Linked DNA regions of Homo sapiens: region 2 is linked to region 1. Evidence: fine-mapped expression QTL. Tissue or cell type: whole blood. Region 1 holds a variant in brackets; the other region holds the start of a gene. All regions are shown on one strand. Distances are from middle to middle. Region 1 holds the start of LOC124901092 (a long non-coding RNA gene). Region 2 holds the start of ARAP3 (ArfGAP with RhoGAP domain, ankyrin repeat and PH domain 3).

Region 1 (5,376 bases):
GATGTAGTTAACACAGTGGAAAGAATAGATGAGAGATGGCAAGAATATTATCAAGGCCCAGAGACCTAGCCATGCTGAAGTCCAGCTCTACCTTTGATTTTTCATATATGAGCCAAAAATTTTCTTCTTTTCCCTTTTGCTTCAACTACTTTGAATTGGGTTTCTAGCAATTGACACTAAAGAATTCTGGCTAATTAATGGCAAAATCAGAAGGTAAAATGTCATAAGGGAGAAAGAGGGCAAAAGGACCATAAGGGGAAGCCAGAGTCATGAGGAAACAGGAATCTCAAGATGGAAAAGCAGGCCAGGTGTGGCAGTTCATGCCTGTAATCCCAGCACTTTGGGAGGCCAGGGCAGGCAGATCACTTGAGGCCAGGAGTTCGACACCAGACTGGCCAACATGGCAAAACCCCATCTCTACCAAAAATACAAAAAATTAGCCGGGTGCGGTAGCTCACACCTGTAATCCCAGCTACTTGGGAAACTGAGGCAGGAGAATCACTTGAACATGGAAGGCAGACGTTGCAGTGAGCCGAGATCACGCCATTGCACTCCAGCCTAGGTGACAGAGTAAGTCTCTAGTCTCCAAAAAAAAAAGAAAGAAATTAGTTGGGTGTGATGGCACATTCCTGTAGTCCCAGCTACTCAGGAGGGTGAGGAGGGAGGAGAATTTGAGCACAGGAGGCAGAGATTGCAGTGAGCTAAGATCACACCACTGCACCCCAGCCTGGACAACAGAGTAAGACTTCACCTCAGAAAAAAAAAAAAAAAAAAAAAAAGAGGGACACAAAAGCAAAAGCCACAATACATAGAAAATGGGTGGTGAGAGGAGAAGAGGCAGACACAGAGAGAAGCTAAATTACTTGAGCTACCACCTCTTCCTCCAAAGGTCCTTCCTCTAAGCCACTCCGAGGTTCAAATAACCTAGTTCAGTTACAATGTGTATGGAAAGTTGTGTTATTGGTCAAAATATTTGCTGTTCCTCCCTTGGGTGCCCTTTCTGAAAGTGGAACATACTTCCCATTGATGAGAGGCCTGCCATGCGATTTGCTTTGGCCAATAAAATATGAGGGAAAGCTTTAAGAATCAGTGTGCTCCTCTATTGGCCTGGGCTCCAGAGTGAAGAAAGCAGGGGAGCAGAGCTGCAGCTGACCCATGACAGATATGTAATATAGGGGAGAAATAAACATTTGTCATAGGCCTCAGGGATTTGGGGACTGTTTGTTACTGCAACATAATGTAACCCACACTGACTGATACACAGCCTATATTTACAGCAGTTCCTGCTCATCTTGTAGCCTGATTATTCATCTTTTCCTGGATTTTCAGGCACATATTTCCTTACAGTCTTCCCTCACCTATTCCTTTTTTTTTTTTTTTTTTGAGATGGAGTCTCGCTCTGTCACCCAGGCTGGAGTGCAGTGGCGCAATGTCTGCTCACTGCAAGCTCTGCCGTCTGGGTTCACGCCATTCTCCTGCCTCAGCCTCCCGAGTAGCTGGGACTACAGGCGCCTGCCACCACACCCAGCTAATTTTTTTGTATTTTTAGTAGAGACGGGCTTTCACCGTGTTCTCCAGGATGGTCTCGATCTCCTGACCTTGTGATCCACCCACCTCGGCCTCCCAAAGTGCTGGGATTACAGGCCTGAGCCACTGCGCCCGGCCTTCCCTCACCTATTCTTATAACCAACAAGAAATAAGCCTTAAACAGTCTTCCTGATATGTAATATTATTCTGGAGAGCGCTATCCCTTAAGCCAGGAATTACAGGACTGATGTTTCATGATCAAGTATCCCTTTTTACCAAGTCCCTTTCCAACTCCTAATCTCCAAAACTTCCTGTAGCCTCAAGAGAATGTGGAATAAATAGATCTGATTATTATAAAACTGCACAATTGCATGATTTAAAGTAATTTTATTTTACTGAATTTCATGTTTATAAATTTTAAAGAATTTCTTTAAAACAAAATCAGAAATGGTTCATTTTACAGATGCTGACTTCTCAAACTTAAGAGAGTCATAGATTTGAGTACATACTGCACTAGTGATGATAATGATGATACAGACATAAATTTATGCAGAACTTTCATATTTCCAAAACATATCACACATTTGCTTGCTTTAAATTCACAACAGCCTGCAAATATTATTCCCATTTTACATATATGGAGACTGGGGATGAGAAAGTTAAAGGAACTCTTTACAAATTATGGAGGTGGTACTGTATCTCCCAGCACCTTGTTCTTCTGCTGCTTTTCCTCCACCTGCTACATCTGTCATAGCAGGCACTTATAGGAAAGGGGGGCACCTACCTCCATGACAGAAGCTGGGGAGGGGTAGTCAGAGACATCCCTGAGTTGAATAAATAAGTGAATACATGAATATATGACTAACTGAATGGATGCATGAATGGATGGGTGGACGATAGATAAATTGATGAGTGGATTGATGGGCAGATTAATGGATCTATGGGTGGGTGGATGATGAATGGGTGAATCTCTTTTGTTTGGATGAATGGGTAGATGGATGGATGGGATTCCTGTGGTCTCAGAGAAAAGGCAGTGGTGTTCTCTCAGTGTCTAGAAAGTGTGTACAGACACTTATAATACTCTACCAGCCAGAATTCCTTATGCTTAGCCATATCTTAACCCTGCCTGCCCAGGTATTTCAATCATCCTTCATCCTCAAGAAAATAGAATATCTTTCAGCCATAAGGTTGTCTATTTCTACTCTCCAACTTACTAGCCATGTTTACTGTACCTCTCCCTGCCTCAGTTTATTCACCCGTAAAATGGAGATGAAAATAACATCTCATTCATAGAGTTGGAATACATAATATATAGATAGATCATTTAGTAAAGTACCTAACATATCATAAATTCTCGATAAATAATAACTATCACCCTTAATATTCCCTAAAGTTCAGAATGGTTGCCTGTGAAAATCAAAGTGAGTCCCCACTCACTAAGCATGCCATATGGTCATTATGGTCTTTAGCCCTTTTTCATTAGTGGTGGAATCTGCAATCATACAATAACCTTTATTTTATTACACAGCCCTTGGAAATTGAGGGTTTCATCTGTGTCAATTAATTCCTTCGCAGCCCACA[T/C]TGGCAGTGACAATCAGAATGTCAAAATGTCTCAGAGGATTTCTAGGAAATCTGTGGCACTTCACGAAGAGGCTGCCCCGGGTGAGAGACCAGCCAGAGTGAATCGTTAATACACTTCCCAGGAAGGGGGATTCTTCTGAAATGCTAATACAATCAACTGCAAGGCAAACTTCAAGCTTCTTTTTCAGTGATCAGAGAGGCCCTCCCAGAGCAAGGATGCTCTCCACTGTGCAAGCTAAAGGCCCTACTTTCTCACCCAGCCTTTTCTGGGGAGGAGAAACACATCCTCACCACATTGCAGCTGCCCTGCGAGGGCTGCAGGTATTGTGTGTCCCCACCAGCCAGGGCAGTTCCCAGACAGACTCTGGCTGCCTGGACCCAGGTCTGCTCCAAGGAAGCAGCACGTTTCTGGAGGAGGCTTAGCCAAGAAACCATTACGGAGTGAGAGAGGAGTTATCTGGATAAATGCGGAACTGCCCAACTCCTAGCATTTGTTCCTGGGACCCAGGCTGTAACATCCTCTGGAGCCAAACTGCCTCTGTTCAAACCCTTGTCCCCGCACTCCACCTCCTAGCTGTGTGGCACTGTGTGCATTACTTAACTTTGCATGCCTTACTTTTTCCATTTGTAAAATGCATATAATAATAAATCCTACCTCCTAGGGTTGTGTGAGGATTTAATGATTTAATAAATAAAAAACACTTAGAACAATTCCTGGCACATGGAAAGCATGTATAAAATGTTAAGTATTATTATTCATTCTTTCATACATTCCCTCATTCATGCATTTATTAGTCTTTCCACTCATCCACTGATTCCTGCACTCATGCATGCATACATCCAACATTCCTATCTGAACCCTTATTAACGAATGAGGTCATGTTAAAAGTGAATAATAAATATCAAGTTTAGGTTTGAGAGACAAAGAGCTACCAAGAGTAGCCTGGGAAAGGTGTCCTAAACCTCTGCTTTGTGCAGGCACCATGCTTAAAACCTCCAACCGCATGCATTTGCTCATGTGGTTTTGTCTCCTCAGATGCTTCTCTCCCCCTTCTTCTGCCCCTCTAAACCCAGAAAACCCTTACTTATCCTCCAAGGCCCAGTTCAAGGGTTATCTCCTGGGTGAAACTTTTCCAGCTTCCGGGCATAACTATTCCCCATCTCCTTAATGAGTAAACGACTGATAGAATGAATAAAGGCTCCCACAGCTCTGTGTTCATGTTGATGTTACAGCCTGTATCACCTTGGATTATAATTAATTGCTCATGCTTCTCCTGCCTGGAACACTCCCCCTTAAGCAGCCTGCTTCTATTTATCCTTCAAGCCTTAGTTTAGACGTCACTTCTTCCAGGAAGCCTTCTTTGACTTGCCAAATATAGTCTTGGGGCCTCTCCTGCAAGTCCCAACAGCCCCTGTTCCTCCCCCATCACCACCCTGGCCATACTGTAAGGTCATTCCTGCCTTGCCTGACTGAGGCCTCTGTGGGACTCCATCCTCTGTGAGACCAGGGGTCAGGTTGGTCTTGCTTACCACGACATTCCCAGCACCCAGTCATGTCATGTACAGTGTCTACAATATGATTGGCACCTCCAGAAGGTTGTGCAGCATGCAACTCTGTATGGCAGCCCTGCCCTGGAAAGGTGCCTGACACCGAATAACCAGACAATAAGTATCTGGTGAATTTATAGATGGTGGCTAAGCTTGGAAACCCCCAGGTTCCTGTGTCAGGTGTCACTCTCATTGCCCCTCCAGGACCCTCTGGGAGGAGCAAAAGTGTTGCAGGTTCTCCCCCTCCTCCTCCTTCAGGAGCTATTCTGTGTTTGGAAAGCTCTCAGCACCTTAAGGTAAGTGGGGTGTCAATAACAGATGGCATGGAATAGGGTGGTGTAAAGGGAGGCCAGTGTCCTGAGCCTGAAAATAAGGAAGCCACTACTCTCACCCAAATAACAGAAAACTGAGTGCTTCCAGCAGATCACATAGGCTCCGCCCCTGGCCCCCCTCCAGCTCTGACAGAAGACACCTGAAGCTCCTCCTTCTCAAAACATTTAGGTGTTCCAGCACTGAACCCTCAGAAGGCAGAAAAGAGAAGTGGTTAAGACAGAGCAAGCCACATTTCTAATTCCAGCCTCACCTCGTTGTTAGCTGTGTGGCTTTAGGCAGATTGCCCAGCCTTTCTGAGCTTCATTCCCTCATCTGTTTACGGATAATACTTCACAGGGGAGGTATGAAGATTAAATAAAACAACACATATAATATACCTGGCCCAGA
Region 2 (5,376 bases), 37 kb after region 1:
TTGTTTTTAGAGACAGGCCTCACTGTCACCCAAGCTGGAGTGCAGTGGTACGATCTCGGCTCACTGCAATCTCCACCTCCTGGCTCAAGCAATCCTCCCACCTCCACCTCCTGAGTAGCTGGGACTACAGGTGCACACTACCACACTTGGCTAATTTTAAAATTTTTAGTAGAGACGAGGTCTTGCTATGTTGCCCAGGCTGGCCTCAAACTCCTGCTCTCAAACAATCCTCCTGCCTTGGCCTCCCAAAATGCTGGGATTACAGGTGTGAGCCACAGTGCCTAGCCGAGAGACCTTGTTCTTAATTACTGCATACCATCCACTTTTGGTGAACAAAGTGGCCTCCAAAGTGATTGTGGCTTAATAGTCTATCATTTGAGTGGGGAACAAATCGAGACATGGAAGGGGCTATTGAAGAATTCCCTTCCACATCTCCTCATTGCTTCATTCTTCCTCTTCCTCTGCTCACTAGTGTCCCTTTTGTCCTATGTGTTAAGATTAAGATTTAAGATTTACTAATTTCGGCCGGGCATGGTGGCTCACGCCTGTAATCCCAGCACTTTGGGAGGCTGAGGTGGATGGATCACCTGACAGGAGTTTGAGACCAGCCTGGCCAACATGGTGAAACCCTGTCTCTACTAAAATACAAAAATTAGCTGGGTGTAGTGGCAGGCACCTGTAATCCCAGCTACTCGGGAGGCTGAGGCACAAGGCTGAGGCACGAGAATTGCTTGAACTCAGGAAGACACAAGCCAGGGGCCAGAAGCCTCCACCTGCCCCATATCATTGAGCCAAAGAAGGGAAGTGGGGTCTGAGGGAGGAAGCCAGGTCTCCCTCTCTGTGGCTCTGCCCCATCATCTGGCATTGGTGTCCTTAACTTGGAGTCAGTGGACTTGGATGGGAAAAGAATATTACTTTCACTAATCTCTAGCTGAAATTTAACATTTCCTCCAATTATGACAATAGCAACAAACCAGTCATTTTAGCCATAACTATGGCTTTGTCACCAGTAGAAATCACATATATTTTTATATCATATTACAATATTGCAGATCTTTTGAAATACCATTTATGCTCATCACTGCATCAAAGTTATGTGAGGTATCAACCTACCACTAGATCTTATTTAAAGCATTAATAAAGAAGCACATATATTACTATATCACATCGGTTTTATATGTGTATTACAACATAATTGGTTTCCTTTGCAATCCTATATATTTTATTTTATGCATTTTAAAATATTATTCTGAGATGAGACCACATACTTTACCGTATTGCCAAAGGAGAACATGGCACAAAAAGGTTCAGAACTCTTGCATCTAGCCCCTGACCCAAACTCCCCGGCATCCATTCCTCAAAACTCCCTGTGCCCTTTACTGTCTTTTCCTGCTCCCTTATTTTGCTGGGTTAGTCTGAGTCCTTAAAGAAGAAGCTGCCAAGGCAGAATGCAAGGATTTGACTAGGGGAGATGCCTGTGAGAGAGGAAGGGAGCCTGGAGCTAGGAGAGCTGTGAAGGAGAGAGGGAAGGAATAAAGGTTGAGAGGAGCATCCTAAAACACCAGTCAAAGGAAAGTTCAGCAAAGCCATTGGGAAATCTTGATCCAAAGTCAGCTGTCAAAGGAGTCCCCTATCTCCCAGGAATGGGTCTGCCTTAGATCTCTGCTGAGCTCTGTCACTGGCTGGGAGCAGCCCAGTGGGAAGCTGGCCTTAGATTTCAGAGAGAAGCAGCTGGGGCCATTGGTTAATTTCACTCCTCACAGTGTAAGATCTGTGAGGAGCATTCTCACTGCCACCACAGTTGCCCATCTGAAAAAAAGGACATGGTGCAGGGGTCCTGTCCAGGGTGGTAGGTGAGCATGGTAGTTATAGATATAGACTTGGAGGGTTGGCTATTTTCTAGCTGCAGAGTCTTGAGCAAGTTATTTAATGCTCCCTGTCTCCTTATATGTAAAATAGAGGTGATAAAATTTCCTATTTGTAGGGATATTTGTGAGGATTAAAGTTTGCAAAGCAATGTTTACATAGATCCTGGAGCACGGTCAGCTCTCAATAATTGGTAGCCCTTATTATGGCTATTGCAATTATTATTTTATTACTATAATTCTCTTTCTCAAAGGGAAGGCCGGGAAAGTGGGGCTCCAGTAGGTTGAAGATGACAGTCCCTCCCCTAGCTGAGGCAGCTGGAAGAGGTGGGAACCACTTCCTCCCACTCCCCTCTTCTTCCCCTGAGGCAGGGGTCTTCCCCTAGCTACTGACAGTTCCTGTGTCTGCTGACTCACAGCCAACTTCCTCTCATACAAACAGGAAAACACAGCCGGCCAGCGCCCCCGCCACCCCCAACACATACACACACACACACACACACACACACACACACACACACACACACACACACACAAACACCCCCCCCCCACACCCAAACACTGGTCCTGCTCAGAGAGGGAAGTGCCTCCGCCCCTGGGAGACAGGCTCCAGGACCGGGGTTCCGGCAAGATTAGCGAAGGAGAGAAGGGCCATTCCTCTTCAGGCCTCCCCGGCATCCCCCCTGAAATTTTAGGGTGGGAGTTGGGGAGAAGGGGCGGCTTCTCCCATGAATGAAACAGCTGCTTGCTTGGTCACTGAGCTTGCAGGGCGTCCGCCTGTCCCAAAAAGGCAGCCCCAAACCTTGGTTTGGAAGTAGGGATGTGCCTTGCGGACCTTCATCCCTCGAAGGAACCTAGGCCGGGCCCTTGGGGATGGAAGTGGGGAGAAACAGACGGGTACCCCTCTGCTGGGCCTCTGCGCTTGTTGCCCAGGCCAAGTCTCAATTCTGGATGTCCAGCTTCCGTCCCCACACTAAACTGGTTGCCAGGGTCCAGCCACCCTTCCGGGCGTGGGAGAGGTGCCCTGGGGGATTAGGGCTCGACCTTTCCTCCTCCCTTTTGGCAGGACTGGAGGGCATGGGAGCAGCGGAGAGGATGCAAAGCCGTCCCTGGCACTCTCCCTTTCTCAGTTTCTACCTCCGTCCCAGTCTCCGTCCCGGTCTCTGCCTCTTTGTCCCTCTCCCTGAGGTTGTCTTCGTCCCAACGTGTTCTGGTCCTTTCTCGGCCTGCGAGAGGGCAGACTGGGGGCAGACTCGGAGATAAGCGCGGCGGTTGGGCAAGAAGCCCAAACCCTTTGGAGGCCTGCGCTTGCACAAGGAGTGGCCGGGGCCCCGCGGAGGGAACCGGCCGGGCGGGGCGGGGCTGGGCCCGTCGAGGGAGGGCAGAGGGGAGGCGGGGCCGGCGCGGCGGGACCCAGAACCTCGGACGAGCGGCGGGCACCCGCGAGCGGACGGCGGCCGCGTAGTGAGGTGAGGACCCCCGCGCCCCCCGGGTCCCTGCTTCCCAGACTCCTCCCCATCACCTTCTCGAGGGCCTTCGTGGGCTCCCAGGCCCCCTCGGCGCCGGCGGCCCTCCCCATCCCTGCCACGACCCGCCCCTCCCTCCTGCTGCCCGGCCTCTGCCCCATCCCTCCTCGCCCCCTCCCTCGTCGCAGCCTGCGCTGCCCGCCACTGCCCGCCCCGCCCCCGCCACTCCTGTCCCGCGAGCACCTCAGCTCCCAGCCCCGTGCTGTCGAGCCCGGCCTGAGTCACCGGGAAACCGGGCCCTGAGTCAGGGCCCGAGGCTCAGCACGCGGGCCCTGGCTTGGGAATGAGGCCCAGCTGGAGAGAGGCAGAGGGAGGCCAGCAGTGATGCTGGGACGGAGAGGGCGTCCTGGTCACCGACAGAGCACAAGAGTAACAGGGAGAGAGCCTAGGCCGAGGCGGAAGACAGAAACCCAGGCTCAGAGGCAGACAGAGACACAGATACAACTCAAGATCTGGTTAGAATTGTAGACTGAGTCAAGGACAAGCTTAATAACAGAGAGCAAAACAGGGTGGGACAAGGAGAGGGACAAAGAAGAATTGAGAGGTTGAGATGGAATGGGGCAGGGACAGTGACAAGGCAGAGATAAAACTCAGGGGCCACAGAATTAGAGACAGGTCTATGAAATAGACCAGGGTCAGGGTCGGGGTCAGGCTGGTGGAAGGGGGACAGAGCACAGAGACCTGAGCCCAAGGGAATGAGCAGGGAAAAGGCAAGCTCAGAAAAGGAAGGCTTGGAGAAAGCAGAGGTGGGGGGATGGCATTTCACACTGCCAAATCGCTACAGGGCATGTGCACACACAGGTGAACAGCATGTGAACATGCTGCCGGTGGGCAGAGAGTCCAGAAGCCTCTGGAGTACCCCTGACCAGAGGTCAGGCCTCATCTCTCTGGCATCCCCATCCTTATTCTTCAATTAGCCTCCACCCAGGGCCGGGACCCCACACATTAGGACTGGTTAGGGCTCTCCCGGCAGCCTGACCAAAGCAGGCAGGATGTGGAGGCGGCCAGGGCTGGAGGGACAGGAAGGAAGTCTGAGCAGAGACAATAGGTGGAAGGGGAGGAGGGACTGGGAACAACCAGGATTAGGACGGCAGGCCTGCATACATCGGCTCTGGAAACAAGAGGGAGGGGGCGTCTGCACCTCCTTCCTCCTATCTAGGCTGCCCCTCTCCCTACCTTACTCCAGAGCTGATTGGCCACATCATTGGCCCCTCCTCTGCATCTCCCTATCCCACTCTGACCCACAGCATTCTAGCATCTTGTCCCATGCTTACTCAGTTGGATGTGCAGTCAGGCAGGAGCAGAGCTTTGACCCAGACCCAGGGTGGGCAGGAACTGAGGGGCCAACTCTAGCACTGACTTACTGTGAACCTGGGGCAAGCCCCTTCCCCTCTCTGGGCCTCAGTTTCCTTAACTTCAAATGAAGTCCCTTCCCTAAGTAGAGAGCCATTGCTGTTGTTCTGGGATGGCTCTGCTTCCAGATCGCAGGCCTTTCAGCATCTTTCTTTGGAGGAAGATTGGAGGCTGGTGCTCACTGTCCAGGCCTCAGACTCTGGGGCAGAGAGGGGGATTCTCAGCCTGAGCCCTCCCTTCACCCTGCCCCTCCCCCCAGCAATGGCCTGAGCCCCCATGGCTGCCCCTCAGGACCTGGACATCGCTGTGTGGCTGGCCACGGTGCACCTGGAGCAGTATGCAGACACGTTCCGACGGCATGGCCTGGCTACAGCAGGTGCAGCCCGGGGCCTGGGCCACGAGGAGTTGAAGCAGTTGGGCATCAGCGCCACAGGGCACCGGAAACGCATTCTACGCCTGCTACAGACAGGCACCGAAGAGGGCTCCCTGGATCCCAAATCAGATAGTGCCATGGAACCATCCCCCAGCCCAGCCCCGCAAGCCCAGCCCCCTAAGCCCGTGCCGAAGCCCAGGACCGTGTTTGGTGGACTCAGTGGCCCTGCCACCACTCAGAGACCTGGGCTGAGCCCAGC

What was found. PIP is the estimated chance that this variant, and not a neighbour inherited with it, causes the effect.
Region 2: ARAP3 starts here. The variant in region 1 is fine-mapped to the expression of ARAP3 in whole blood (INTERVAL, PIP 0.97).

The regions. Positions count from the first base shown.
Region 1 is chr5:141,717,030-141,722,405 of GRCh38, reverse strand. LOC124901092 (a long non-coding RNA gene) reads left to right here and starts at 1,598. Exons shown (of 2, transcript XR_007058973.1): 1 at 1,598-5,376. The variant T/C (reference allele first, on the strand shown) is at 3,109.
Region 2 is chr5:141,680,131-141,685,506 of GRCh38, reverse strand. ARAP3 (ArfGAP with RhoGAP domain, ankyrin repeat and PH domain 3) reads left to right here and starts at 3,277. Exons shown (of 33, transcript NM_022481.6): 1 at 3,277-3,334; 2 at 5,004-5,376. The coding sequence starts at 5,021. RefSeq lists a silencer at 3,228-3,277.